Homo sapiens: one gene and its partners. The protein of the gene in region 4 purifies or fractionates together with the protein of the main gene of each other region. This does not show direct contact. Each region holds a gene or a part of one and is shown on either strand. Other genes may lie near its edges.

Evidence for each region.
Region 1: the proteins of DEF8 (region 4) and PLCB1 purify together in Homo sapiens (affinity purification with mass spectrometry; 2 studies listed by BioGRID and IntAct, with this or other methods). This does not show direct contact.
Region 2: the proteins of DEF8 (region 4) and PLEKHM3 purify together in Homo sapiens (affinity purification with mass spectrometry; 2 studies listed by BioGRID and IntAct, with this or other methods). This does not show direct contact.
Region 3: the proteins of DEF8 (region 4) and MSTO1 purify together in Homo sapiens (affinity purification with mass spectrometry; 2 studies listed by BioGRID and IntAct, with this or other methods). This does not show direct contact.

Annotation. Positions count from the first base shown.
Region 1 is NC_000020.11:8,730,261-8,737,289, reverse strand, and holds part of PLCB1 (1-phosphatidylinositol 4,5-bisphosphate phosphodiesterase beta-1), read right to left. Parts: intron 4,053-7,029; coding exon 3,898-4,052; intron 263-3,897; coding exon 98-262; intron 1-97.
Region 2 is NC_000002.12:207,820,776-207,826,544, forward strand, and holds the end of PLEKHM3 (pleckstrin homology domain-containing family M member 3), read right to left. Parts: 3' UTR 513-5,769; downstream 1-512. UniProt on the Homo sapiens protein: Involved in skeletal muscle differentiation. May act as a scaffold protein for AKT1 during muscle differentiation.
Region 3 is NC_000001.11:155,606,252-155,613,217, reverse strand, and holds the start of MSTO1 (protein misato homolog 1), read right to left. Parts: upstream 3,001-6,966; 5' UTR 2,970-3,000; coding exon 2,886-2,969; exon of another isoform or gene 2,794-2,885; coding exon 2,658-2,793; exon of another isoform or gene 2,180-2,657; coding exon 2,110-2,179; intron 2,003-2,109; coding exon 1,927-2,002; exon of another isoform or gene 1,863-1,926; intron 1,808-1,862; exon of another isoform or gene 1,792-1,807; coding exon of another isoform or gene 1,670-1,791; coding exon 1,615-1,669; intron 1,530-1,614; coding exon 1,391-1,529; coding exon of another isoform or gene 1,366-1,390; intron 1,298-1,365; exon of another isoform or gene 1,253-1,297; coding exon of another isoform or gene 1,236-1,252; coding exon 1,118-1,235; intron 1,037-1,117; coding exon 902-1,036; intron 801-901; coding exon 648-800; exon of another isoform or gene 584-647; intron 413-583; exon of another isoform or gene 375-412; coding exon 243-374; intron 170-242; coding exon 1-169. UniProt on the Homo sapiens protein: Involved in the regulation of mitochondrial distribution and morphology. Required for mitochondrial fusion and mitochondrial network formation.
Region 4 is NC_000016.10:89,951,741-89,958,769, reverse strand, and holds part of DEF8 (differentially expressed in FDCP 8 homolog), read right to left. Parts: exon of another isoform or gene 6,088-7,029; intron 5,394-6,087; exon of another isoform or gene 5,250-5,393; intron 4,528-5,249; coding exon of another isoform or gene 4,518-4,527; coding exon 4,394-4,517; intron 3,602-4,393; coding exon 3,504-3,601; intron 1,260-3,503; coding exon 1,110-1,259; intron 1-1,109. UniProt on the Homo sapiens protein: Positively regulates lysosome peripheral distribution and ruffled border formation in osteoclasts. Involved in bone resorption.

The DNA of each region.
Region 1 (7,029 bases), on a different chromosome or scaffold from region 4:
CAAATTAAATAACAAATAATTCACCATTTCATTATTTTCTCAGTGTAAAACACCTGAAAAATGCAGTTATAACTCATATCAAGAACATGTGACCAACCTTTTTGAACACAATAGGTTCTTCTTCCCAGACAGGATTCACAGCATTTCCTTGGGATGTTTTGGTCTTAAATGCCTTCCTCCTTGTATCCACAGGCAAACCAAACATATCTACTTCCACGTAAGTCCCAACTTTCTTATCAGAAAGAAACTGACCTGAAATAATCTAGAAAATCAATAAATCAATCAATCCATAAGGAATTTTGATATGCAAATAACAAAGACATAAGAGAATACTTTAAAGAGCCACAAATGCTCTTCAGCAAATGTTGAATTATAAGCAAAATGGAATAGAAGCAAGAGTAGAAATATGATTTCCCTTTCACTTAATGGGTTATGATATGGTTTGGTTCTATGTCCTCACCCAAATCTCATGTTGAATTGTAATCCTCACATATTTGGGGAGGGTGATTGGATTATGGGAGTGGTTTCTCTCATGCTGTTCTCATGATAGTGAGTTCTCACAAGATCTGATGGTTTAATAAGTGTGTGGCAGTTCCCCCCTCACTCTCTCTCTTCTCCCTTCATGTGAGGTGTGCTTTGCTTCCCCTTCACTTTCCACCATAATTGTAAGTTTCATGAGGCCTCCTCAGCCATGCAGAACTGTGAGTCAATTAAACCTCTTTTCTTTATAAATTGCTCAGTTTCAGGTAGTTCTTTATAGCAGTGTGAAAATGGACAAACACAGGTTGGTAGAAGGATATTGAAAATGGTGAGGTTAGAAGTAGTCAATTAATAAGACACAGTATTGTAGGAGGAATAAATGAACAAGTATTCACTTTAAACCATCAAGATAAGTTTATCATTACCCCTAATCTCACAAGGTGTCACCATCTTTGTCTAGCTACAGAACTAATGGATATTATAGACTTAAAAGAGATTTTTAATATTACGTATTTATAAATGTCTTCCATGTCTGCCTCTGTTTCTATGCAAATTTTCAAAATCTGAACTATCCACCAGCTGTCATAAAGGTTAGCGGAGGCAAACAAGATGTGCTTCTGCTGTATACCAGGAAGGGGAAAGCAGGAAGCAAGTGCTGACAGAGCAAACCTGGTGAATCTGGGTTATGTGGTTACAAGAAAATTGCCTGCTGGTCAAGAACTTTCTGAGCTCCAGATTGTGAAAAGGGGACAGCATTATGGCTGGGCTCACAATCTGAGCTCAAGATTGTGAAAGGGGACAGAATTATGGCTGGGCCAGAAATCAGACAAAATGGTGGCATGAGAATAGCTATCAAAGGCTGAGTAAAGTCAAAGTCAGCTATATGCTGATGTTGTCAGAAATTCTGAGTAATTCAGAGAGAAAGTCATCAGGAAGGCTCTCTGAATTTGCCCTGGGACAACTCATTTCCCCTGTATGTTCTATTTGGCTTGAGTGCATGGGACCTGCTAGCAACAATCTCTTTGTTTAACTTGAGGTTCTATGTGAGAACTATGTCTATGAAATAAGCAAGCATTTCAAAACATGTTTGAAACTTCTAAGTTATGCAAGTCCTACTTGGAATTCAGATGCACAGAAGATGTTGTATGTTTAAGATGTTTGACCAAAGCAGAGTCCTAAACTAAATTCATGACACCAAAACCACAATGCTCTCGTCAGTAACATAGGACGGTAGAACATCATGTGAGCTCACAAGTCCATTCTGGCATTATAAAATCTATGCCAGAAGATGAAAACAAAGGCATAATTGGAAAGTTATGATCTGTATCTTGGCTCTAGCTATAATGTCAAAGGTAGGACTCTACTGCAGTGAGAACTGTCCATTCAGGGGAGACTGACAGCTCTGGAGCAGCGTCTCCATTCTGGACAGGAGCAGCAGGTTACACTTGTCTGGGGATCAACTATTTCCCCTTCACAACTCAATGTACTTTCCTGCCTCTGTGTCATTGTTTTATAATTGCTTACTGTCACAGTAGGATTTTCAAGACAAAAAAAGAAATAAGCAAACAAATACATTCAAAACAAGACGAATCTGCAAGCAAAGCAAAAATATTATTAATTCAACCGAACTATAACAACAATTGACAAGGATTCTAAAAGTAGCATTCTATCAGTACATGGAGCTTATGAGTTTATCTTTATCACACCTGACAGGAATTAAACAGCCTTTTCTGAAAATACTTTCCTAAAATAAACTCTAATTCTGCCAACTTGAACTCTTTATACATGTGGCTTGAAGTAATTTCAAAAGATATAATTATGAGACACTTCACTGAAATTTTATTCTTTAAACCCTTGATATAAAGTGACGAAAGTTTTAAGGTAAAAATGTGCTCAACTGCTTAGGGTAGAAAGAAATTAGTGAAGCTGTTATAGAAAGCTTTTTACATAGTTTTTCAAATGCCTTTGTTTAAGGTTAATCAAAAAATTACATTTATGTCCAGTAAAAAAATTTCTTAGTTCTATAGTTATTCAGTTAAACAGAAAACAGACAATATTTTTGAAAAGCTTTAACGATGAAGAATCCATGTAAAATGTATTCTAAAAAATTGATTTTCCTTTCATAGTATTAAAAATATTTTCTGGTAGCTAAAAAATTATATCTGATATAAAATCAATTTCAAAGACTAAAAAAATTTAGAATTGTTTAGGGTCAGATATACATATGTATGTGTATATATCTATGATTTTTATATATTTATGACATACATGTATATATACATATATATTTAATAAAGCAACTCTTTTATTTAATGATCATTAATATGTGTTTTAAAATCTCTGAATACTCTGGAAGATTTTCAAAAACCATTTAAAGTAATTTGAAAGCTTTTGTTTAACATTTGATAATTTATTGAGGGAATGTTCTGTCTCTAATTTTCTAAGAACCAAACGGGGAAAAAAAGACCGGAAAATCTCTCCAATATGGGCCACTAATTATCATGTAAATTTCATAGTAGGTTAGTTACACCAAAAAAGAGGTTTGCTTATGATGAGTCTCTCCAACTCATTTTATTGATTTAGAGTCAGATTTTTATCATTAAGAATAAAGTTCAGTCGCTTTATCTTATTCATGTGGCCTATGAAAACTTTTTTTTTTTTTTTTTTTTTTTTTGAGACAGAGTCTCGCTCTCTCGCTCTGTCGCCCAGGCTGGAGTGCAGTGGCGCGATCTGGGCTCTCTGCAAGCTCCACCTCCCAGGTTCACGCCATTCTCCTGTCTCAGCCTCTTGAGTAGCTGGCACTACAGGCGCCCGCCACCACGCCCGGCTAATTGTTTTTTTTTGTATTTTTTAGTAGAGACGGGGTTTCACCGTGTTAGCCAGGATGGTCTCGATCTCCTGACCTCGTGATCCACCTGCCTCGGCCTCCCAAAGTGCTGGGATTACAGGCGTGAGTCACTGCGCCCGACCCTACCAAAACTTTTATTATTATTATTATTATTATTATTATTATTATTATTATTATACTTTAAGTTTTAGGGTACATGCGCACAATGTGCAGGTTAGTTACATATGTATACATGTGCCATGCTGGTGTGCTGCACCCATTAACTCGTCATTTAGCATTAGGTGTATCTCCTAATGCTATCCCTCCCCGCTCCCCCCACCCCACAACAGTCCCCAGAGTGTGATGTTCCCCTTCCCGTGTGCATTCATAGATGGGAATTGAACAATGAGAACACACGGACCCCTTACGAAAACTTTTAATGTGTATTTGATCTTTAGAGAAAAAAAATGTAGGAAGAAAGTAGAATCTTTCCTAGTTACTAAATTTTTAATGACTAAGCCACTTCTTTATGCAATGTAGATAAATTCAACACTATTGTTAGGAACAATTTTGTGATGGGGTATACCTACCTTAACAGACAAAGTGTTTGCCACTATCCCATCTACGATGCCTTCAGTAAATGGATCAAAATGCTTGTCAGGCCTCCTCATGAACTCTGGCTTCAATCTGTAGCCACTCTTCCCGTTGTATTCATACATCCCCATATTTATTTGCATAGCCAGGTCTGAGTATCAAAAACACAAGCCTTATTGTGAGTTTATCTATACTTGGGGTAAGAAAGTAAGATTGTAAAGTAAAGTTGATCCCAGTCCACTTTTGTGACTGTATTCCCTTGGAAGAGAGTCATTGTAGAAATGCAGGAAACACAGATAAGAAAAAAATTACCTCTAATCCCCAAGTCCAGAAATAATCACTGCCAACTGGTGGGTGTGCAGTCTGCTTTTCCACTTCAAATATATTGTTGACATACAGTATATTGATTTCATTTAATATGTATCTGCCTTAATTATAACAGCTGTCTCAAATTCCTTTGATTAAATATATTAGAATAATATATTTGTATAATATATGTTAAATATTAATATAATATAATATATCTAATATATAATATATAATTATATATAAATATAGTATATACAAAATATCTAATATCTAACATATATTAGATATATTATTTATATTATTCTAATATATCTAATATCTAATGTATTAAATATATCATTCTAATATATATTAGATATATTAGAATGATATATTAAATATATCATTCTAATATATAAAGCATATATTAGAATATTATGATACAATATCTAATATCTAATTTCTAATTTCTAATTCTAATATCTAATTTCTAATATGATACACTATCTAATACAATATATTAGAATATAATATCTAATACAATATATTAGAATATAATATCTAATACAATATATTAGAATATAATGTATTTAACCATTCCCCTTTTGGGCACATTTATGTTTTTTCTAATTTTTCACCCTTATAATGTTTTGATAAACATCATTGTGGTGAAATCTTTGAAGCCATGATCAGTGATTTTCTTATGAGAGGAATTCCTGGGACAAATGATGTCCTCATTGGAAAATTTTTCTTTGATGCCTTGCTAAAATGCCCTTCAGAAAGCTTAAACCAGCTTATACTACTAAGCCATGTTTTTGAGAATGGACTTCTCCATGCCTCATTAAAAGAGGATTCTATTATTCCTTTTCCTGCTTTTTAATTTGTACAAAAAATTTCTTTTTTATAATTTGCACTTCTGTGATTACTTACAATTAACATCTAATTCTACATAGACTCTTTTCCAGTGGACAAAGGTTACTGGTCAAAATTTTCCTCAGACTCAGTGCATCAGATGAACGTTCACACATATTGCAACTGATAGAGTGAAAGAATACATATTAAAGTTGTAAAGAATCTGGGAAGTTGTCAACAGTTCCAGATTATCTGTGTCATGACTCATCTCTATGTGCATAATAAAGAGGTGATGGCAGAATTATTCTAAAGTTTCATTTAACAAATCATTTTTAGAGCAGAAAAAAATCAGTGAAATTTTCTCTTATTAAACTATTATTTTATAAACATAACTATGATGTCAAAATTGGACAAAATTTCAAAACAATAATGAATTTATGACACTTGAAAAAATTAGCTTCAAAAGCCTAAAAATTACATTAGCAAGTCATATGTTCTAAAAATAATACACAACAAATAAGTAGAGCCTATTTTGGGAACAAAAGGATAATTATATATTAGGAAATGAGATCTATTAAGATAACTTATCACATTTATGTCTGAAAAATGAACATATGATCATCCCAATGGATGTCCAAGAGACATTTAATAACATTCAATACCAACTTCTAAAACATTAGTCAAATAGGACCCGTGTCCTTTAGTATGTTAAAGAATATCTGACTCAAAGTCACAGCCAATATCTGACTTGATGATATCACAACAGTGAAACTTATATTAGGATCAGGATGAAGAGAAAGATGCCCACTCTTCACTTAGATAGAAGACGTTAAGACCTGGTGTTTGATAGACAAGGAGGTGACTATAGTTAACATTAATAGTTTGTACATTTAAAAATAGCTAGAAGACAGCAATTCGATTGTTTCTAATGTAAAGATAAATATTTCAGGTGATGGATATCCCAATTACTCTGATTTGATTATATAAATGTATTAAATTATCATACGTACTGCAAACGTTTGTACAGCTATTATGTATCAATAAAAATAAATTAATTGATTTTAAAAAGCCATAAATATCTAGCAAATTACTCTTAATCGTGGCTTAGAGCTTGATAGATACTTAATAAAAGGCATAATGTTGAACTTCCTACTGAATAAAAAAGAAAGATGCCCACTCGGAACCCTCATTTAATACCTGAGAACGGTAAGGCCAAAGCAATAAATAAGGCAGGTGGAGAAATGAGATATGATTAAATTACTGTCTTTGTGTGTCTAAAAATTCCAACGGAATGTACTGCAAAAAATAGGCTATTATAAGAGTTTAGAAAGATGATCATTTGTAAAATACAATCATTTATAAAATAAACAAATATACAAATATAAATATCCAGAAACAATCTGTTAAAAATATAATATAAATAAAAAGAAAGATTCAGTCTAAGAAAACTAGACCTCTAATGAAGACAAGTGATTTTGCTGAGGACTTAATACAAAAAATTTTAAAGTAAAGAGAAAAGCATTTTTCCTGTGACAGAAAAACTAAAAATTAAAAAGGTGTCAGTTTTTGTCAGATAAATTTATAAAGTTAATATGATTTTAAAAATAGTTTTTTTTTAGTAGTCAAGGAAAACATAATACAGTTAAATTAAGTTTATTTGAAATAAGAATTCCACTGGCAATGGCAAAAAAGGAATTGAAAATTAATAGTAGTAAAGGAGAATCACCACTTCCAGGTATTAATCCATATTATAAAATACAGTAAAAACAGTGAGTTATTGCATCCAGGAAGGCAGACAAATTTATTAATGGAAAAGATACAAAGTGAAAAAATGGGTCTGAATTAACAACAACAATGAAAAAGGCTGTATCTATTAACGTGTAATTCCAGTTCAGTGGGATGATTGTTTAGGATGAAAAAAAAGGATTGATCTCACTGAGACTATGGACCAAAATTAAATTTTGATGGTTGAAAAGGTTAAATAAAAA
Region 2 (5,769 bases), on a different chromosome or scaffold from region 4:
AAAAGTTACACTACATTTTTCATGAGCATGGAAAGGGCTGATGAGAATATTGTAGGTTGATGAATTGTTTTAAAAGTCTATCTGTAAGATACTTGAGATAATTTAAAAGTGGTTCTTTTTTTTTTTTTTTTTTTTTTTTGAGACAGAGTCGTGCTCTGTCGCCCAGGCTGGAGTGCAGTGGCACGATCTCAGCTCACTGCAGCCTCCGCCTCCAAGGTTCAAGCAATTCTCCCTGCCTCAGCCTCCCCTGAGTAGCTGGGATTACAGGTGCCCACCATCATGCCTGGCTAATTTGTGTATTTTTAGTAGAGAGGGGGTTTTGCCATGTTGGCCAGGCTGGTCTCGAACTCTCGACTTTAGGTGATCTGCCTGCCTTGGGCTCCGCACCTGGCTGTGGCTCATTTTCAATAAAGCTCAAATCTTGACTTTGAATTAATATATAGGGCTCACCTTGGGCTTTCACCACCCCCTCAAGAGCAGTATTTTAATCAAGTTGTTATGAGAAAGGAAAGTATTTTCTGCATTGTTTATTGAGAGAGAGAGAGAGAGAACTTTATACATTAGGAACTGGTGCACTTAAATTATGTGACAGATGACCTTAAAAACTAGAGGTATTGTCAACAATACAACTTCAATTTTATATTATTACAGTTACTGATATTTTTAAAATAATGTAAACAAAAATATAGATAAGTTATGCCAAAACAAAAGGTAAAATCCAAAAAACAGAAAGAACACATATATAAGTTAGCACATTAGCTACTACAAATAACTTAACACAAAGTGATATAACAGCCCAGACCCAAAATTTTAGTCATTTCTGTACTGTGTGAGCAGATATAAGAAAAAATGGCATAGACCTGACCCAGGAGCTACAGAACAAGTTTTGCAGAAGTTTTTTACATCACCACGTTCAATACTCTCCATTTGCAACCTAAGCATTTTCTCTCCTTTAAAAAAAAAAGTATATATATATATTTTTCAAAGAGATGAGGGTCTCGCTATCTTGCCCAGACTTGTCTTGAACTCCTGGGCTCCAGTGATCCTCCCACCCCAGCCTCCCAAAGAGCTGGGATTACAGGTGTGAGCCGCTGCGGCCAACCACTTTCCCTCCTTTGGCCATTCCTTCTTTTAGCTACTATTCCTAAGAAACAGATTTAAAATATATATCTTCTAGGGTAGGCTAGTAGCTATTCACAGTAAGATTCTACTTCTTTTTTTGTTTGTTTTTTGAGATGGGTCTCACCATATTGCACAGGCTCCTGGGCTCAAGCAATCTACCCACTTCAGCCTCCCAAATAGCTGGGACTGTAGGCACATGCCACCATGCCCAGCGTAACAGTAAGATTCTGATAGGTGACCAAAGCTAGAACCTAGGCCTCCAGCAGCCAAAGCCTAATTTGATGGCTCAGTGGACACACAAAGCTAATTTGATAGCTCACGCCAAACAAAGAGACATTTTTATCACAATTTATCTAAGAGGCTTCCCACTTCTTATTTGGAAAACAGGTGGCAAAATAAAAAGAAAACCTTTGAAAGGTGAAAGATAAGAAAATCCTTGTGTTTGTGTAATTTTGAACCTGAAAAGGCTAAGTTCACTGACTTTACAGATTCAATTATGGATGGCTGGTTTTTATTTCTCTACCCATTGGCCTTGGTGACATCATGACATTCCCCTGAGTTTGGTTAATGAAAGCAAACAAACAAATAAACAAAAAGAGCGATTGAAGAACAGCATAAAACAAAGTGAAAACATTATGTGGTTGCATCTTTTGCATTTCCTGGTAAAAGTGCTAATGGCACTAAGAAGCCAATGTTTGTACCATTCTACTTTAACGACGTGTTTCCGACATGATTCCCTTTACTCCTGAGGTTAAGGCACACCAGGCTGAACAAGGTGAGAGTTCTGACATGCATCATGGAATGCACAGGCTCCAAGAGCATCTATATGAAGAGTAGCCAGCAGGGAAGAAGCAAAGGGATCCAGATTTAGTTGAAGGGTCCTGCAGGCTTCAAGTGGTTCAGACTAGACTAGAAGCACGAGACAGTACTATAAGGCACTCCTACAGGGACAAGAGACACAAGGGAAGGCCAACATGGAGAAGGAGCCACAGGCCCCAGCTGTCCTCTAGCTGGTTTATTAGCCATGAGGCCTGCCTCTGGGCTGGGGCTCAGAACTAGGGGCAAGGAAGATCCAGGGAAAAGAGAGAGGCTGGTTTGCAGCTTCACGGCCAATAGGAGGGAGCCCTCCTAAGAGTTAGGAGTTGCTGTGAGTTGCTGTAGGTGCCTGAATCTTCTACTCTGGGCAACAACCAGCTTCATTCAAAGTCTGGAACTTCATTCAAAGTCTGGAACTTCATTCAAAGTCTTGTCTTTCTAACAAGACGAACAGGCAGTGGCTTCTCTTTTCACAGGGAAAATCCAAAGCAAAACAGCAGTTGTCTCACTTGAGTTTAGCAATGCTTTCCATCACACCAGCGGCCACTTTACGAAGACAGTGCCACAAAACATGATCATTTGGAACTTACTTTTTTTTTTTTTTTTGAGACGGAGTCTTGCTCTGTCGCCCAGGCTGGAGTGCAGTGGCGCAATCTCGGCTCACTGCAACCTCTGCCTCCCAGGTTCAAGCAATTCTCCTGCCTCAGTCTCCCAAGTAGCTGGGATTATAGGCATCCACCAAAACACTCAGCTAATTTTTGTATTTTTAGTAAAGAGGGGGGTTTCACCATGTTGGCCAGGCTGGCCTCAAACTCCTGACCTCAAGTGATTCACCCACCTCGGCCTTCAAAGTGTTGGGATTACAGGCATGAGCCACTACGTTCAGCCTAATTTTTTTATTTTTAGTATAGACCTGATTTCACCATTTTTGGCCCGGCTGGTCTCAAACTCCTGACCTCAAGTGATCTGCCTGCCTTGGCCTCCCAAAGGGCTGGGATTACAGGCGTGAGCCACCAATCCTGGCCAAGTGGAACCCACTTTAAATAAAACTGACAACTACCGGTATGGTTAGGAGGGTATCCCATACTCTTGTCTTTTACCTAGAGTTTAACAATGACTTGGATTTTCCCTCAGCCATGCACCCATTAAAACGCACTAAGGAAAGACCCTTGAGTCAGAGATTTTTGAATCCAATGAAATTAGAATCGTCTACCAATAAGGAGACTACTGGGTGCTAGACTTAACTGTCGAAACACCGTTCCACATGACAGAAATCAACACTTGTCTGTTTACATTAACCGAGCAGAGCTTAGTCACCCATCACTGGATTCGACCTCGAGCAGACAGCTCTACCTGACTCAGGGTCGGAAGAGTGATACAAGGTGTGCAACATATGAAGCTCCTAATGCCCATCACTAACAAGTGACACGGAGGCAGGGGAAACAGAGAGTGCCGCTACCGATTCAGGTCACGCAAAGGAGGGAGGCTCTTTCAAGGTCTTGCTCCAACTTCACGTTTTCACATTATTTCAGAGTAAGAAAAGAAGTGGTGCAGACAACTCAAGAAATAAAATGGGCAAAAATTATACACATCTCTATTTACTAGGAGAAGTAAAAAAATAAAACAACCCCTGTGTTGAAACCAGGCAGTATTGGAATCAGGAGGTGAAGATCTGTTTCATAATCTAGTGATTTCAAGAGAGTGTGTCAGATCAACGGAGATGAATAATTGTGCACAAATACACGAGCAACAGCATTGGCTTGACTCTAAAGGAGGACCAGAATGTGTCTCTACTTCCACTGCTAACGCCCCTCTGCAGAAAATGTTCAGTGTGCGTGGCATCGTGCTAGTCCCACCTGGATATACTAATTTATGGACGGCCTTTTCTAGCCAATGGGTAGAGAACAAACTCCCAGGTTTGGAAGCCAAGCCTCTCTGAGGAGGCACAGAAAAGAACTATCCGATGTCCACGTTCAGTGTGTACACACAACACACAGAGACAAAAACAGAGGCCAGGCTCCGTCAGAGGACACACTCTAGCTGAGCAAAGGCTGCATTCGGCAACTAGGGTGGTGTAAACACCTCGGATCTCACTGCAGCCGGAAGGAAGTCACGGCATAGTCCCTTTTCAGGAGTCTGAGGGATACCACTTGTGTTGCAAACCACAGATCCCAAGTATTAGACGTATTCCCTTCTTGGTGGAGGCCTACTCTAGAAGAATCAAAAACCGATGACCCTCTCAGCGAATCCGATGTTAAAGCTCCTAACTAGGTGACCCTTTAGCACTACAGACGTAAAAATGACTCTAATGCACTCCCTAGAAAAGGCAGTGAAGCAAAGGGGGCTGCTGAGAGTTTACATGGTTTTCATATAAAGAGGCTTTTAACTTTGGAAAAAGCGGGCCTGGAAAGAACACTACCCCCATTCCAGTTGACGGCTTTTTAAGTACTTTGTGGCCTTCCTGCCGCGGTGCAAAATGAGGTCTATTTTAGGAACTGGCTTCTTTACTGCGGGGTTAGATGCCAACATTTCACCAGGGTTGGACGATCTCACACATGAGTTTCTGGCACTTTTAGGAGGGATTTCCTCAAGTGATACACTAGGGAATGAGCCTTTCAGCAAAAAGCGGTTCCCCGGAGTCAGTTGCCAGCTCCAGGAGATTAATTGGCCATTTTTTCATATGTTTTATGTGCAAGATATTTAATATGGGATGAAAAATGGAACACGAGGAAAAGCAGGTATTAGTTTGGTCTGAAAGAGGTGGTAATCCACAGATTTGCTTTTGTTTCGACAGTTTCTAAGCAGTGGAACAATTACCTAACAGTGCACCAAGTAATTTGTTAAAGTTGAAAACAGTAAGGGCGTTCATGTGCGCCAAGGTATTCTGGGCTGAAAACAGCAATTTTGAATTTTCATGGCAGACCCAACTCCTAAGCTGGCTCCACTCTGTCCTATCAGATTTTGGTGGTGGTGGCAGAGAATGTCATAGGCCTGTGGCTGGCACCGACCAAGCTGTCAGGGTGGTACGAAAAGGAGAGGAAACAGGAGTGCTGGACATGGACCCAGCTCTGGGTAGCTGATGGTGATAACACATCGATTTTTTGTTTCCCTTTTGAAAATAAGCAGAAAATGATGTGGGTGGAAAGTCCTCCTTAGGAGTTCACAGGGACTGCTCGTATTTAGCAGGGCCCTCTAAATGGGGACTGGTGAAAACAAAGATGTTTTGAACGGGGATCCAGAATTTCGCCCTTGACTCTCGGCAGGTATGACCCTGGGTGCCTGTGAGCTAGGAGAGGAAATTCTGTATGCAGGGCAAACATGTTACAAGGGGAGGAGATGGCACTGCACTTCAGGTCTCCAAATGCAGTGTGCTAGGAATGGCCTCGCTGACAGTTGGAATCACGGATACATTAATTACAGCGAAGGCAAAAGTAAGCTACAGTGACAGGGAGCTGGGGGCGGAGGGAGAAGGCACTTTGCCATGGGAGCACATCTGTTTTATAATAAGCAGGTCTATAATTCTCTTGTGAAAGATCATGTTCTGCTATCTTCTCTGAGGCTGGAAAATATAAATACTGTATTTTACCAAGAGGAGGAGGAAAGGAGATGATCAAATTTGTTTGCCTGTTGCCAAGTGTTTGAGATTTTCCACCCTTTTTCTTTTGTGTGCAACATTCTCTTTAACTAGAGTGGGGGAAAAGTCAACCTGCTTTTCTAAGGGTAAAAGGCACCGTCAGGCGTCTCATGAATAGGGCCCTGGCCTTTTAACAAGTTTTCAAGCCTTGGTTGCGGCTACTGTATAGTCAGAAAATAAATGCATGTATGGTGTTG
Region 3 (6,966 bases), on a different chromosome or scaffold from region 4:
TGTCTATACCCCTCAGCACCACTGACTGGGCAAAGCAACGTGTTCCAGAAGGCTCCCCACATGCAGACAGTGGGGTCCATGGGGTGGCTCCTCCAAACTGCATCAGGGAATCAGGAAGGGACTGGCCTGGAGCCAAGGGGAAAGGGATGATTGCTCCTGCTGTCACCACCTAAAGAGATGGAAGAGAACACGTTATAGGACATTTTCTCAGCACTGACCCAACCCCTTACAAAGCTTCATACCTTTTTCCCACAGAAGCTCAGCATGTCAGCCAGATGAACCATGGAAACTGGAGAGGAACACAGGCGATAAGGAACAGTGACTGTGTCCAGGGCTGTAGCCAGGATGGCACTGCAGTGGAAGGGCAGAGTGGCCTGTAAGAAGACACCAAGATGGGCACTTGGCCTCAGGCCTGGAAAAGAATGTGTGGAGGCAGAATATTAACACCAGAGAGACCCAGGGGACGAATCAGGGGTATGTTTGACCCCAGGCTGGACAAGCATAGGACAGTGTGATCTGAGAGGCCACATCACAGCTGAGTTCAAGCTCGGGCCTCAAGAACAGAGCCAGTAACAGACAGCGGCTGACTGGGAGCATGAGGAGGCCCTGTAGCCTGCCGCAGTCAGAACAAGAGCACCGAGACTTACATCATAATGCAGGTAAGGGAAGCTGACAGGTGGCTCGGGTCGCAGGCCCAGGCTCCCACCCAAGGACAAGGGGCAGACAAGAGAGCTGTGAGCAGTCAGGTGCACGAGACCAAAAGCTGTGTTTAATAGACGATAGATGTTTCTCTGGGCCTCCTGGTGAAGAAAGAGTAGTTTGTATTAAGCAGCTCTCCCACTGGGATTCTGATTTCTCCCTCCCCACTGTGTGACTGTTTACTTCTCTAAGTTCCACTCACCCCACGATGGTAGGGACCAGGTAGCAGGCCCCAGGTTATTATTCCCCGCCCTGAATATTCATCTTGTAGCAGCTCTGCCGCCTTCGCGCCTACCCCAGAGAAGCCATCGTGCAGGTCACACAGGATCTGGAAGCCCTGGACGGGGGTGAGTGACAAAAGATAGTTAGCAGGATGAGAAGAGCTTCCACCCTGGAGTGCACATTGCCACGCCACTACCTGCAAGTAGTCACATTCCTCCACGTAGAAATGCAGCCTGTCCTCCAGCTCTTCCTGGTACTTGGGTTCCTTTAGGACACTTTCCCCTTGGCCAAAAGCCTCCAGCCGACCTGCTTCCCTGCCACAAGTAAACATGATCCAAGACTTACATCTCTTCCCTCAACTCCTCAGCCTCTTGTCCTGGGGAAGGGCAGGGAAGATGGCCTCAAGAGCCTCATCCTGCATTGGTGGGGACCCATGTTTCTTGCCTCAAAGCCTCTGGGGTCCCCATACCCATCGTGGTTGTACTTCTGAATCATACAGATGCTCCGGGGATGGAGATGGACTCTGAGGAAGTCTGACCAGACCCTGATGCTGGCCTCTGTAGGGATAAGTGGTTTTGGAGTTGTAGCGGTGGGGAGTGGTGAGGAACCTGAAGACAAGCAGAGGAAATGTACCTTTCTCCATGTTTCTGCTCTACCCAAGCCCCCATCCATCAGTATCTGGAGAAGTCTCACCTTTGCCATTGGGAATGGATTTGACCCTCCAGACACCATCACTACTCAGCACTCCCTGGGAGGGGTCAGAAAAATCGACATTTAGTTCCAGGCAGTTTAGAGGCAAAGGTTGCTTCGTCCTCCTTGAGTTGGCTGGCCACACCGCATAGCCTCCTTTCTGTTCACCGAGTCGCAGTCCTTAGGAAAAGGAGTGCTTTTTCCCAAAATATCATTCTAAGACACTTAAAATGATTAAAATCCCCGTTTACCTGCCCCTATGGAGACCCTCGGGTTGTGGCACCGGGTTAAAAAGTTCAGGACAGAGGCCCTCACCTCTGCACTCAGAAAGTCTTGGAGATAAGGGTTCTTGGGATAGAGTTCCTCTTTGTGTGTGGTGAGCTTCCCCTGCCTGAAAGAGTTTGGAGATTGATCAAAGAAACTGCACTCTGATCAGAGTTATCCAGCGTTCTGCGTACATACACGATCCCCACCCTTATCCATACATCAGTTACACACCATGCTATTGCAGCATCCAACTGTTTGTCCCTGTAGAGTCCACCTTCCTCTTTTAGGGAGCTCAAACTACCTGTACAGAAATAACAGAGACAATGTTAGGTCAAAGCCTGGGCACCCTTCCCCTCTAGCTAACCTTCCTCTGATCACCTGACAACCTGCTGTCACCATCTCTCCAGCACTTGGCTCTTCCAAGCTTTCTGGGATATACACTAGTTGGGGGAAAAACCTTGGCTTAGGAGAATCTAGATTCCATCTTTCGGTTCCCAGCTTAGTCATTAGCTGTGGGACGCGGGGGGAACCACATCCAGGGGTCTGACAGGAGTGCTGCAGTTCAAGTCCTCACTGTCTCCAGGGCCTAGCAGCCTATTCCCGAAATGGCTCTTGAGCAACTGTCGTGGGCCCCTCGAGTGTTGGCATGTTGTGCTCAGCTCCTCATCTCCGGTCCTGGAGCTCGGTAAGGTGGGAGGGTCTTGAAGATAACGGCAGCGCAAGGACTAGGCACGCGGAAGGGAAATAAGGGGCATCGGCTAACTCTGCCACCACCTCACCCTTCAGATCCATGAGGATGAGTCGCGGCGTGTAGGTCTCCTGGCCGTGCAGCGTCCGGCCCGTACGATACAGGACGTCGGGGCACAGCTCTCCCGGGGGCTCCTTGGAATCGGTCGCTCGGCCCAGCGCAGCATCCTGGGGAAGCAGAGAGGACGAGGCAGGCCGGCTGAACGTCGGGACTGTAGATCCCGAAGGGCTCCTCGGGGGCAGCTGCCGGCTGACCTCACCTGCTGGTTCCACCAGTGCGCGCCCACGAAACCGGCAAAATGTCCCAACTGCAGTGTGAGCACCTCCCGGGCCCCGCCCGCCATACTGCGCTGCTCCACGGGGCCGCCGCGCCTCAGCCGCGCCGCTCGCTGCTCCTAGCCGATTGGCTTGGCAGGCGCGTGGGCGGGTGTTATTCTCGGCTACTTATTGGCCCGCAAACACATCCTTTCCCATTGGAGAAACGATGCGCCGATCCCTTCCTACCTCTTCCTAGACGTGGCCCAGTCCGGCTTCTCTGTGGTTGCCTGTGAGGGGCGGGGCTCCACGGGCCACGCCGTTGCTCCTGCTCCACGTTGGAGCGGGGTGGGCGCCGTCTCCGCCGCTGACTTGGGGCCGCCAGGGCGCGGGCCGTGGAAGGCTCTGCTTCCTACTTGTCTTGAGGTCTTATCCCTTCTCACAGATCTCTCCGCTGGCTGATAGCTCCCCGGGCAAAAAGAAAACCTTGCCAGAAAAGCGGAAGCTCCCCTAAAGCCTCCCATGCCCCTTCATCTCTTCAGAAGTCACGTGGACCACGACTAATAACCTGTGGACTGGCTTAGCTATCATATCTCTATCATTTACACGTATTTATCTATCTCTGTGTATCTAACACCTTATGTAAAGAGAGTATGTATCTGTTGGCGTCTTTTGCTCAATATGGTTTATGTAATTCATATTTTTGCAAATATCTATAATTCATTTTCATCACTGCGGAATAGTCCATTGTATGAATACGCCACCACTGATCTATTCTAAAGAAAGAATAGGCTGGGCGCGGTGGTTCACGCCTGTAATCCCAGCACTTTGGGAGGCTGAGGCGGGCAGATCACGAGGTCAAGAGATCGAGACCATCCTGGCTAACACGGTGAAACCCCATCTCTACTAAAAATACAAAAAAAAATTAGCTGGGCGTGGTGGCGGGCGCCTGTAGTCCCAGCTACTCGGGAGGCTGAGGCAGGCGAATGGCGTGAACCCGGGAGGCGGAGCTTGCAGTGAGCCGAGATCACGCCAATGCACTCCATCCTGGGCGACAGAGCGAGACTCTGTCTCAAAAAAAAAAAAAAAAAAAATATATATATATATATATATATATATACTGCTGATAATAGCTTTTGGGATTGTTTCCAATTTTTGGGCTATTAGGTGCTATGATTAACATTCTTGTGTGTATTTAGAAACAAGGCAAGGGCCGGGTGCGGTAGTTTACGCCTGTAATCCCAACACTTTGGGAGGCCGAGGCAGGAGGATCAACTGAGGTCAGGAGGTTGAGACCAGCCTGGCTAACATGATGAAACCCCGGTCTCTACTAAAAATACAAAACATGTAGCCGGGCGTGGTGGCGGGCCCTTGTACTCCCAGCTGCTCAGGAGGCTGAGTCAGGGAATCATTTGAACCTGGGAGGTGGAAGTTGCAGTGAGCCGATATCACGCCACTGCACTCCAGCCTGGGAAACAAGAGCAAAACTCCTCTCTAAAAAATAAAAAATAAAAAAATAAAAATAAAAATAAAAAAGGCCGGGCGCCGCGGTTCAAGCCTGTAATCCCAGCACTTTGGGAGGCCGAGGCGGGTGGATCACGAGGTCAGGAGATCGAGACCATCCTGGCTAACACGGTGAAACCCCGTCTCTACTAAAAATACTAACAATTAGCCGGGCGTGGTGACGGGCGCGACCTGTAGTCCCAGCTACTTGGGAGGCGGAGGCAGGACAATGGCGTGAACCCGGGAGGCGGAGCTTGCGGTGAGCCGAGATCGCGCCACTGCACTCCACCTTGGGCAACAGAGCCAGACTCCATCTCAAAAAAAAAAAAAAAAAAAAAGAGATAAGGCAAATATTGGTTGGGCGCAGAGGCTCACGCCTGTATTCCCACGTTTTGGTGAGGCTGAGGCAGGAAGATCGCTTGAGTCCAGAAATTCGAGAATGTGAGGGTAGACTGGACAATGTAGTGAGACTCCCCCTCCCCCTATCCTCTCTATAAAAGAATTTTTCAAAAAATTAGCTAGGCAGCCCACATCTGTAGTCCTAACCAGAGGCTAGGGTGAGAGGATCGCTTCAGCGCAGGAATTAGAGGCTGCGGTGAACCATGATTGGAGCACTGCACTGCAGCCAGAGACAGAGGGAGACCCTGTCTCAAAATTTTAAAAAGTGACAAAATGTTAATTGAATCTAGGTGAAGATTATAGGTGTTCTTTTGCAGTACTCTCTGAGCATTCTTGTAGGTTTGAAATTTTTTCAAGAAATAAAGGTTAGATGCTCTTATCTCTTCTGAGCTCTTTGTATTTTCACATGTATTATATTTAGTTTTGTTTATTTATTTTGAGACTGTCTCACTCTCTTTGCCCTGGCTGGAGTGCAGTGGTGCAATCTCCCGGCTCACTGAAGCTTCAACCTCTTGGGCTGAAGCGATCCTCCCACCTCAGCCTCCCAAGTAGCTGCAATTACAGGCATAGGCCACTGCACCCGGCTAATTTTTGTATTTTTTGTACAGAAGGGGTTTCACCATCTTGCCCAGGCTGGTCTCCTGAGCTCAAGCGATCTGCCCACTTCGGCCTCCCAAAATATTGGGATTACAGGCGTGAGCCAATATGCCCGGCTACTATTTCACTTTTCTAAGTATGATGTGGGCTGAAAAGTTTCTATAGATACTCTGACAGTTTAAGGAAGTTCTCTGTCCTGATTTGCTAAGAGTTTTGATCATGAATAGATTTGAATGTTTTTTACAGCTTTCTCCAAACCAAGATAATTACATTATTTTATCCTTCCTTTGTTGTGCTAATGAATAAATTACATCGTTAGATTATCATGTAATACTATCTTGCATTCCTCAAATAAACCTAAACTCGGCTAGGCGCGGTGGCTCAGACCTGTAATACTAGCACTTTGGGAGGCCGAGGCAGGCGGATCACAAGGTCAGGAGTTCGAGACCATCCTGGCCAACATAGTGAAAACCCTGTCTCTACTAAAAATACAAAAATTATCTGGGCGTGGTGGCACGTGCCTGTAATCCCAGCTACTTGAGAGGCTGAGGCAGGAGAATCTCTTGAACCAGGGAGTCGGAGGTTGCAGTGAGCCAAGATCGCGCCATAGCACTCCAGCCTGGTGACAGAGAAAGACTCCAACTCAAACAAACAAACAAAAAACCTAAATTCATTTATGTTGATTATCCTTTTAAAATATTGGATCTGGCTGGGTGTGGTGGCTCACACCTGTAATCCCAGCACTTTGGGAGGCCAAGGCGGGCGGATCACGAGGTCAGAAGTTCGAGACCAGCCTGGCAAACATGGTGAAACCCCATCTCTACTAAAAACACAAAATTAGCAGGACGAGGTGGCGCGTGCCTGTAATCTCAACTACTCAGGAGTCTGAGGCAGGATAATTGCTTGAACCCGACAGGCAAAGGTTGCAGTGAGCCAAGATGGGGCCACTGCACTCCAGCCTGTGCGACAGATGGAGACTCTGTCTCAAAAAATAAATAAATATAAAATATTGGATCTGGGCCGGCTGCAGTGGCTCATGCCTGTAATCCCAGCACTTTGGAAGGCTGAGGCAGGTGGATCACTTGAGCCCAGGAGGTCAAAACAAGCCTGGGTAACATAGTGAGATCTTGTTGCTACAAAAAAAAAGGCTGGGTACGATGGCTCACACCTGTAATCCCAGCACTTTGGGAGGCTGAGGCAGGCGATCACCTGAGGTCAGGATTTGAGAACAACCTGGCCAACATGGTGAAACCCCATCTCTATTAAAAATACAAAAATTAGCTGGCAGTGGTGGCACGCGCCTGTGGTCCCAGCTCCTCGGGAGGCTGGGGCAGAAGAATCTCTTGAACCTGGGAGGCGGAGGTTGCAGTGAGCCAAGATCATGTCATTGCGCTCCAGCCTGGGAGACAGAGTGAGACTCCGTCTGAAAAGAAAAAGAAAGAAGAAGAAGAAAAAATAGAAAAAAAAAAGTTGTATCTTGGCCAGGCACAGTGGTTCTCACCTGTAATCCCCAGCATTTTGGGAGGCTGAGGCAGGCGGATCACTTAAGGCCAGGAGTTCGAGACCAGCCTGGCCAACATGGCGAGA
Region 4 (7,029 bases):
GAGGGGCTGTGTGGGATTGCACCGGGCCATGGGCATGTGAGCGGGAGCGACCCGGCCTCTCTGCCCCTCCTGCTTTTTGCCGGTTAGGTGCAGGGCAATGGAAAAGGAGGCCCTCCCCAACACCATTAGCTGTCATAGAGGCCCCAGACCACCTATGGGATTTTTACGTGAGGAAACGAACACATCTTCTCTAAGCCACTATGTTTTGGGGTTTTTTTTTCTTACCACCAATTTACCTGTTTCCTCATGAATATTCTACTTTCTACATTCCCAGGGATACCTGAATCAGCACAGGGGACACAGGGCAGCCAGGCCAAAGCACACACAGACCCAAGGACTGCATCAGGAACATCTGTGGCCTGGGACCCACCACCTTCTTTTGTTGTCACCTTCAAGACACCACCCGTCCTTGTCCATGTGGCTCACTCAGGGAGGAACTTACTTAGCCCACCCGCTTGCTTCAGTGGGTGGGCACACAGCCCAGAACTAGCCAATCGGCCACCGTCATTGGGTCAGTGGGCGGGCACACAGCCCAGAACTAGCCAATCGGCCACTGTCATTGGGTCAGGGGTGGGCACATGACCCAGAACTGGCCAGTCAGCCACTGTCATCCGGTCAGGACTGGCCAATGAAAGTCAGGCCTGAGGTTCCTGCTATAACCACTGTGAAAAGGCAGCTGTCATCTGCACAGGGAGGCTCAGCTCCTGGAAAGCAAGATGTGGTTGCCGGGACCGTCTCTGCCACCGCACAGGGAAGGCCTGCCTGAGGCTGGATCAGACACAGGAAGTCGAGTTGGAAGAGAGCAAGATTCCTGACACTGGAGGATCTTCCAGTCACCAAGCAAATACATTTTTCTTTTTGGCTTAAGCTACTCAGGGTTGAGTTTCTGTTCCTTGCAACAGGAGGGTCTAGGCTAATAGGGAAACCTCCCGCAGTGGGGTGAGGGCCCGTCTTCCACCCTGCCTGTCTCGTGCCCTTCTACCTCAGCCCCTGAGGCCGAGAGAGAGACCACCGCCTGAGAGAGAGCCAGAGGCTGGCAGGGTCCTCCTAGTTCCACAGTTCTGGCCTCGGCCCCAGGCTGCCCCACGGCGGGGCGGCCCCACACCCACCTTCAGCTCCTGGAGCTTCAGCCGGAGGTGGATGAGTCGCACCACGGCATCCTTCTGCTTCTCCGACTGCTCGGGCAGCTCCAGAATCACCTGCTTGCACTCCTCGATCGCCTGCCGCAGCTGCTGGACGTCAGAGGCCAGGAACAGACCCTGCCCAGGTTGGGGGCGGGGGCAGTCAAAGGCCCATCCTGCAGGAGCTCCCTGTTAAGGCCCATCCGCCGAGACAGGCCCAGAGCAGACCCCGACACCCCTCACCCAGAGAAGGAAACTCAACCCAGAGGGCACCGAGGACTTGCTCCAGGGCAGGAAAGGTGGCAGCACGGTCAAGGTCCACCCGGTGCTGCGTGCTCCTAGCCTGACCTGCCTGCCCACAGACCTCTGAAAACCTAATGTTTGAAAGTTGCTTTTCAAAAGACAACTTCCTTCTTTGAGAAATCCAGATGCTTTTTTGTTATGTCACTTCACTTCCTTCTGAAGAGCTTCCTCTTGGAGGAAAGCTAGGGAAAGGACATTTGCTGTCATGAAGGACAGTAAGTGGCCTCGAGCTTGACTGCCAAGCCCAAGCACATGCCGAGAGCCAGCCCCAGCACTTCTGGTTGCTTTCGCCACATAGCGACCAGGGGGCTCACGGCCCAGCAAGGCCCCAGACTCAGAACACTCTGGGGATCCCGGGGAAGACAGGATCAGGTCTCAGTGCTGGGGAGCCTGGACCCCGCCCTCAGGAGCCATCCTCCTCCTCCAGGCTGCTGGGCTCTGAGACCCAGGCAAAGGGGAGGTGGCACCCTCCCCTCCCCCTTGCAGCTCAGCCTGTGGCCCAAAGGAAGTGCTCAAAATGTTGTAATATACAAAACAAGCTGAGTGCAGTGGGTCACACCTATAATGCTAGCACTTTGGGAGGCCGAGGTGGGTGGATCACTTGAGCTCAGGAGCTTTAGACTAGCCTGGGCAACAGAGCGAGACCCCGTGTCTATAAAAAAAAAATGAAAAATTATCTGAGCATTGTAGTGCACACCTGTAGTCTCAGCTAATCAGGAAGCTGAGGTGGGAGGATCGCTTGGGCTCAGGAGGTCGAGGCTGCAGTGAGCCATGATTGCGCCACTGCACTTCACAGCGGGGGCAACAGAGCGAGACCTTATCTCAAGAAAAAGGAAAAAAAATAAGATACGAAACAAATATATGAAGTCTCTCCCTCTTTTTTTTTTTTTCAGACGGAGTCTCTGTCGCCCAGGCTGGAGTGCAGCGGCACGATCTCGGCTCACTGCAACCTCCACCTCCCGGGTTCAAGCGATTCTCCTGCCTCAGCCTCCTGAGTAGCTGGGACTACAGGGGCGCTCCACTATGCCCGGCTAAATTTTTTTTTGTATTTTTAGTAGAGACGGGGTTTCAGCATGTTGGTCAGGCTGGTCTCGAACTCCTGACCTCACGATCCGCCCGCCTCGGCCTCCCAAAGTGCTGGATTACAGGCGTGAGCCACCACGTCTGGCCCAAATCCTTTCAAAGTTACATTTGAATGTTGCCGTAATGTTTCCCTCAAAAGTTGGAGATGGTTTGCATAAAAATAAAAGGTTTTCAAACTTTTTTTTTCTTTGAGACGGAGTCTCACTCTGTCACCCAGGCTGGAGTGCAGTGGCGCAGTCTCGGCTCACTGCAAACTCTGCCTCCTAGGTTCACATCATTCTCCTACCTCAGCCTCCCGAGTAGCTGGGACTACAGGCATGTGCCACCACGCCCGGCTGATTTTTTGCATTTTTTAGTAGAGACGGGGTTTCACCGTGTTAGCCAGGATGGTCTCCATCTCCTGACCTCGTGATCCGCCCGCCTCAGCCTCCCAAAGTGCTGGGATTACAGGCGTGAGCCACCGCGCCCGGCCTCAAACTTTTTTAAAAAAATCATTATATCCTCCCCCTTTTCTTCTTCAACACAAGGCTTCCATGGAACAAAACACGGAACAAACAAGAGTGGCCCTGTAATACCGACTGGTCAGTACGAGGCAGACAAGGGGCTTCCCCTTGCCTCCCACACCCTGACTCTCGGCAAGTGTACAGGACCTCAAGGACCCCAGAGGGAATCTATTCTCTGCACATTTGCTTCATGAAGACATGGAGCTCAGGGGACAGAAGCAGCCCCAGGTTCATGAACCCCAATCCCAGGCTCTCTCCACCTGCCTTCACTCAGGCTCTGAGGGTGGGGGTCTGTGGTGTCATGCAGGCCTCAGATTCGAAGCCAGGAGCCCTGGCTGAGGTGGGGGCTGCTGAGCCTGACAATGGAGTGAGACTGTACCCCAGCTCACAGGACACTGCCCTGCCACCTGGGAGGGAGTGACAAGGAAACCCTGGCCCTTCCTGCCTTGGGGGTTCCCTCAGTCCCTCTCCCCTCCGAGATCTAAAACCTTACCACAGGGCGGGAGAAGTGGTCCTCAGACAGGCCGAGATCCATCACGCGTTCAGGGCAGCGGAATTCCGGCTCCCCAGGGGGCAGCTCAGGCAGGGCCTCTGGAGGAAGACGGGGACAGGTGTGGAGCGTCAGCTGCTACCTCCTGCCTCCCATCCCCTAGGGAGGAGCTGAGATAGCCAGGAGTGGGAAAGGGATTCAGGAAGCCGCACAGAAAGGAGGCACCGTGAGAGCTGGGCACCACTCAGATCTGCACACCGTCCAGTCTGCATTCACAGAGGAGCCCACAGCCTTGTGTAGACAGGAAAGAGCCACTCAAAATGAGGAGGTGGAATGACACTCGGTGCCAAAAGTCCTCAAGACAGCATTATAGAGACATCCCATTTCTAAGGTGGACACCTCATGCGTGACCACGGGGGCGAGAGAAAAACCACTGCATGGCTACACAGCAAAATCCACGAACCCCAGTGTCGACTCCAGGCCGTCTCTGCAGCTGCCCCGCTCCAAGCACTCCCTGATGACCTCATCTGCAGTTTCTAAAGCTCATGCCACCCTGACGCCCAGAGCACGTTCCCTCGGCTAACCTCTCCCTTACCAGGTCTCAGCGCTGACCGCACTCAGCAAGTGTTCCCTGAGCACCTACTATGTGCTGGGCCCTAGGATGCAGCAGTGATGGGTCAGGCACAAATCTTGCCCTCAGGAATGTGAATTCTAGTGGGGACACAGAAACAAACCACACGACCACAGAAGAGATGGGAAAAAGAACACAGCCAGCAGGTGCCGGCTCCGTGGGAAAGCCAGGGCTGCGCAGGACGCGGCAGGAAGAAAGGAGGGGTCCACGTAAGCAGTCAGAGACCTGCCCAGCTCCCACCCTGACTCCCACCAGCACCCACCTTCAGGAGTGACGTCCGGGACCTCCTCCCCAGGGCCCTGCTCATGCTGTCTCGGCCCAGACTGCTTGTTGAAGGGGTTGAGGTGGGCCTGCCGGAAACGGGCCAGCTTCTCATCATATTCCATAGCATCCCACCTGAGGGCCAGGCAGGGCCAGGATGAGTCCCCAGGTACCAGGCTCACCACGGACCACCCCCTTTCCCCAACCACACTGGGGTGTCTGGGGTGAGGCTGGCCTCTTTCACTTCCCTAAAGTGGGTAGTCCTCACACCACAGCCTTGATCTTCAGCCTTTTCCTGAAACACCTCAGCTGCCTCCTGCCCAGGCCCCCACTGGTGGCGTCCCCTTGGAAAGAGCTCACGGTGACAATGAGGGTCCCACGAGGGCACGTGGCCCATCTGAGGGGCCCAAGCTCCCTGCCTCCCAGCACAGGGTCCTCTTGCCCAATGTTGCAGAGCTCCAGCCCTAGAGCTACCTATGGGATCCTCTCTGGGCCTCAGCCCCAGATACTCACTCAGCCCCGCTCTAGCTTGCTATCCACCTGCTATGTGAGACACACCTCTCAGAAATGGGTTCCTCCTTCCTGGGCCCCAAGCAAAGGTGCTTTCTTGTCAGAGCACCCTGAAACCACAGCCCCTGTCTCAGGACTTAGGGTTGGACACTTGGGGACAGTTCCAGGGCCCATTCCTGCTCTGCCACAGGTGAGTGAGCAGGGCCCACCTTCCCCATGCCCAGGAGCAGGGGATCTTGGGAGGATTCCCTGCCAGCACACAGAGAAGCCCCCTACAAATGCATCCAGGCTCTCTGGCCTGGGTTCTGATCCTGTGATGAGCAACACGACCTGAACCAGGCCCACGGCTCTGTGCCTCAGGAACCCAGGAAACAGGCCGGAAGGGCCTAGTTCTCCACGTGGCAGAAGCTCAGGATCAAGAATTGCTCTTTCCCCACCCGGAGGCTCAGAACACTGCAGAACACACAGGGCTGATGGCTCCTGGCAGGGAGGAAGGGACTTTGGTTGGGGTGGGAGTAGAGGCAGTTGGCATCCAGCCCTCCCACTTAACTTCCTGGGCCACATTCCTTAGCCTCTCTGCCTCCATTTCCCCATCCGTAATGGGCCATTGTGAGGGTGAAATGAGTTAACAGAGACTGAGCACAAAGTAAGCTCGCTGTAAGGTCTGTTGATGTTATAGAAAGTCGGAGATGTCTTTTTAAAGTTGTTCAGTAACTGCAACAGTGTTAGTTATGCTTTCACTACACCTGCTACAGTGTTAGTTATGCTTTCACTACACCTGCTACAGTCTGAAATAATTCACAATTATAATAATCAATCCTATGATTTATCCTCTGTCTCTTCTCCCAAAAGAAAGAGAGCTGAGCCCAGAGGGGACGGCCCTGCTCAGGGTCACACTGTGGCCTGGAAGAACTGGGATTTGAACTAATTGCCTCACTGGCAGTGGGATAAGGAGGCCACCCCAACCCCACATGGCTGCCCTGCAACTGGGCAAGACTCCACACCACCTATGGGGCCTGTCCTGCCTGTTGTGCCTGTGGGGCAGGAGTGTGGGTTGGGCACCTGCACGCCAGCCTGAAAGGACAAAGCACCCATGGACAGGCTGCCCGTGGACCCCAACAGGGAGGCACGGGGAAGACACAGGGAACGTGAGTGGGCCCCAGTCCCACCTCCTTCTCTTATTACCTGATGACTGTGGGTGGGTCACAGAGTCAGAGGCGGCCACCCGATGCCAGCACCTCCCCAGTCTCCCAGGGAGCACCCAGGACACAGGAGAAATCAGGCCATCCCAACATCACTCCTCCTTCTTCCTGAATGAGGAGCCTCATTTTTGTTTGTCACATAATTTCCCAGCCTCCCCAGCAGCTAGACCTGGTAAAGTGACTGTTCTGACCCCCTCGGCTTGAGAAGATCAGGCAGATCTGAGCAGCTCTGGGCTCCTGGCTTCACTGACATACCCAAGTGCTTAGCCCTTCCATCCACCCCAGGAAGTACGTGTTCTCCCTGATTTATAGGCAAGAAAAGGGAGAACCAGAGACTAAATCAGGGCTATCTGAAAACAACAGTAATGGGCCGGGCGTGGTAGCTCACACCTATAATCCCAGCACTCTGGAAGGCCAAGGCAGGAGGACGGCATCCGGCCAGGCCCAATGCAATGAGGCCCTATCTCTATTAAATTTTATACAAATATGGGCTGGGCGCCGTGGCTCACGCCTGTAATCCCAGCACATTGGGAGGCCGAGGCGGGCGGATCACCAGGTCAGGAGATCGAAACCATCCTGGCTAACACATTGAAACCCTGTCTCTACTAGAAATACAAAAAATTAGCCAGGTGTGGTGGCAGGCGCCTGTAGCCCCAGCTACTCGGGAGGCTGAGGCAGCAGAATAGCGTGAACCCAGGAAGCGGAGCTTGCAGTGAGCCGAGAACGCACCACTGCACTCCAGCCTGGGCAACAGAGCGAGACTCCATATCAAAAAAAAAAAAAATCTTTTTTACATAAATATGTATGTGTGTGTATATACATATATATGTGTGTGTGTGTATACATACATATGAGAAAAAAGAAAAGACTTCTGAGAATTGTCCTTAAAGGTAGGGGCTGCCCCTCTTCAGCCATCCCTGCCTCC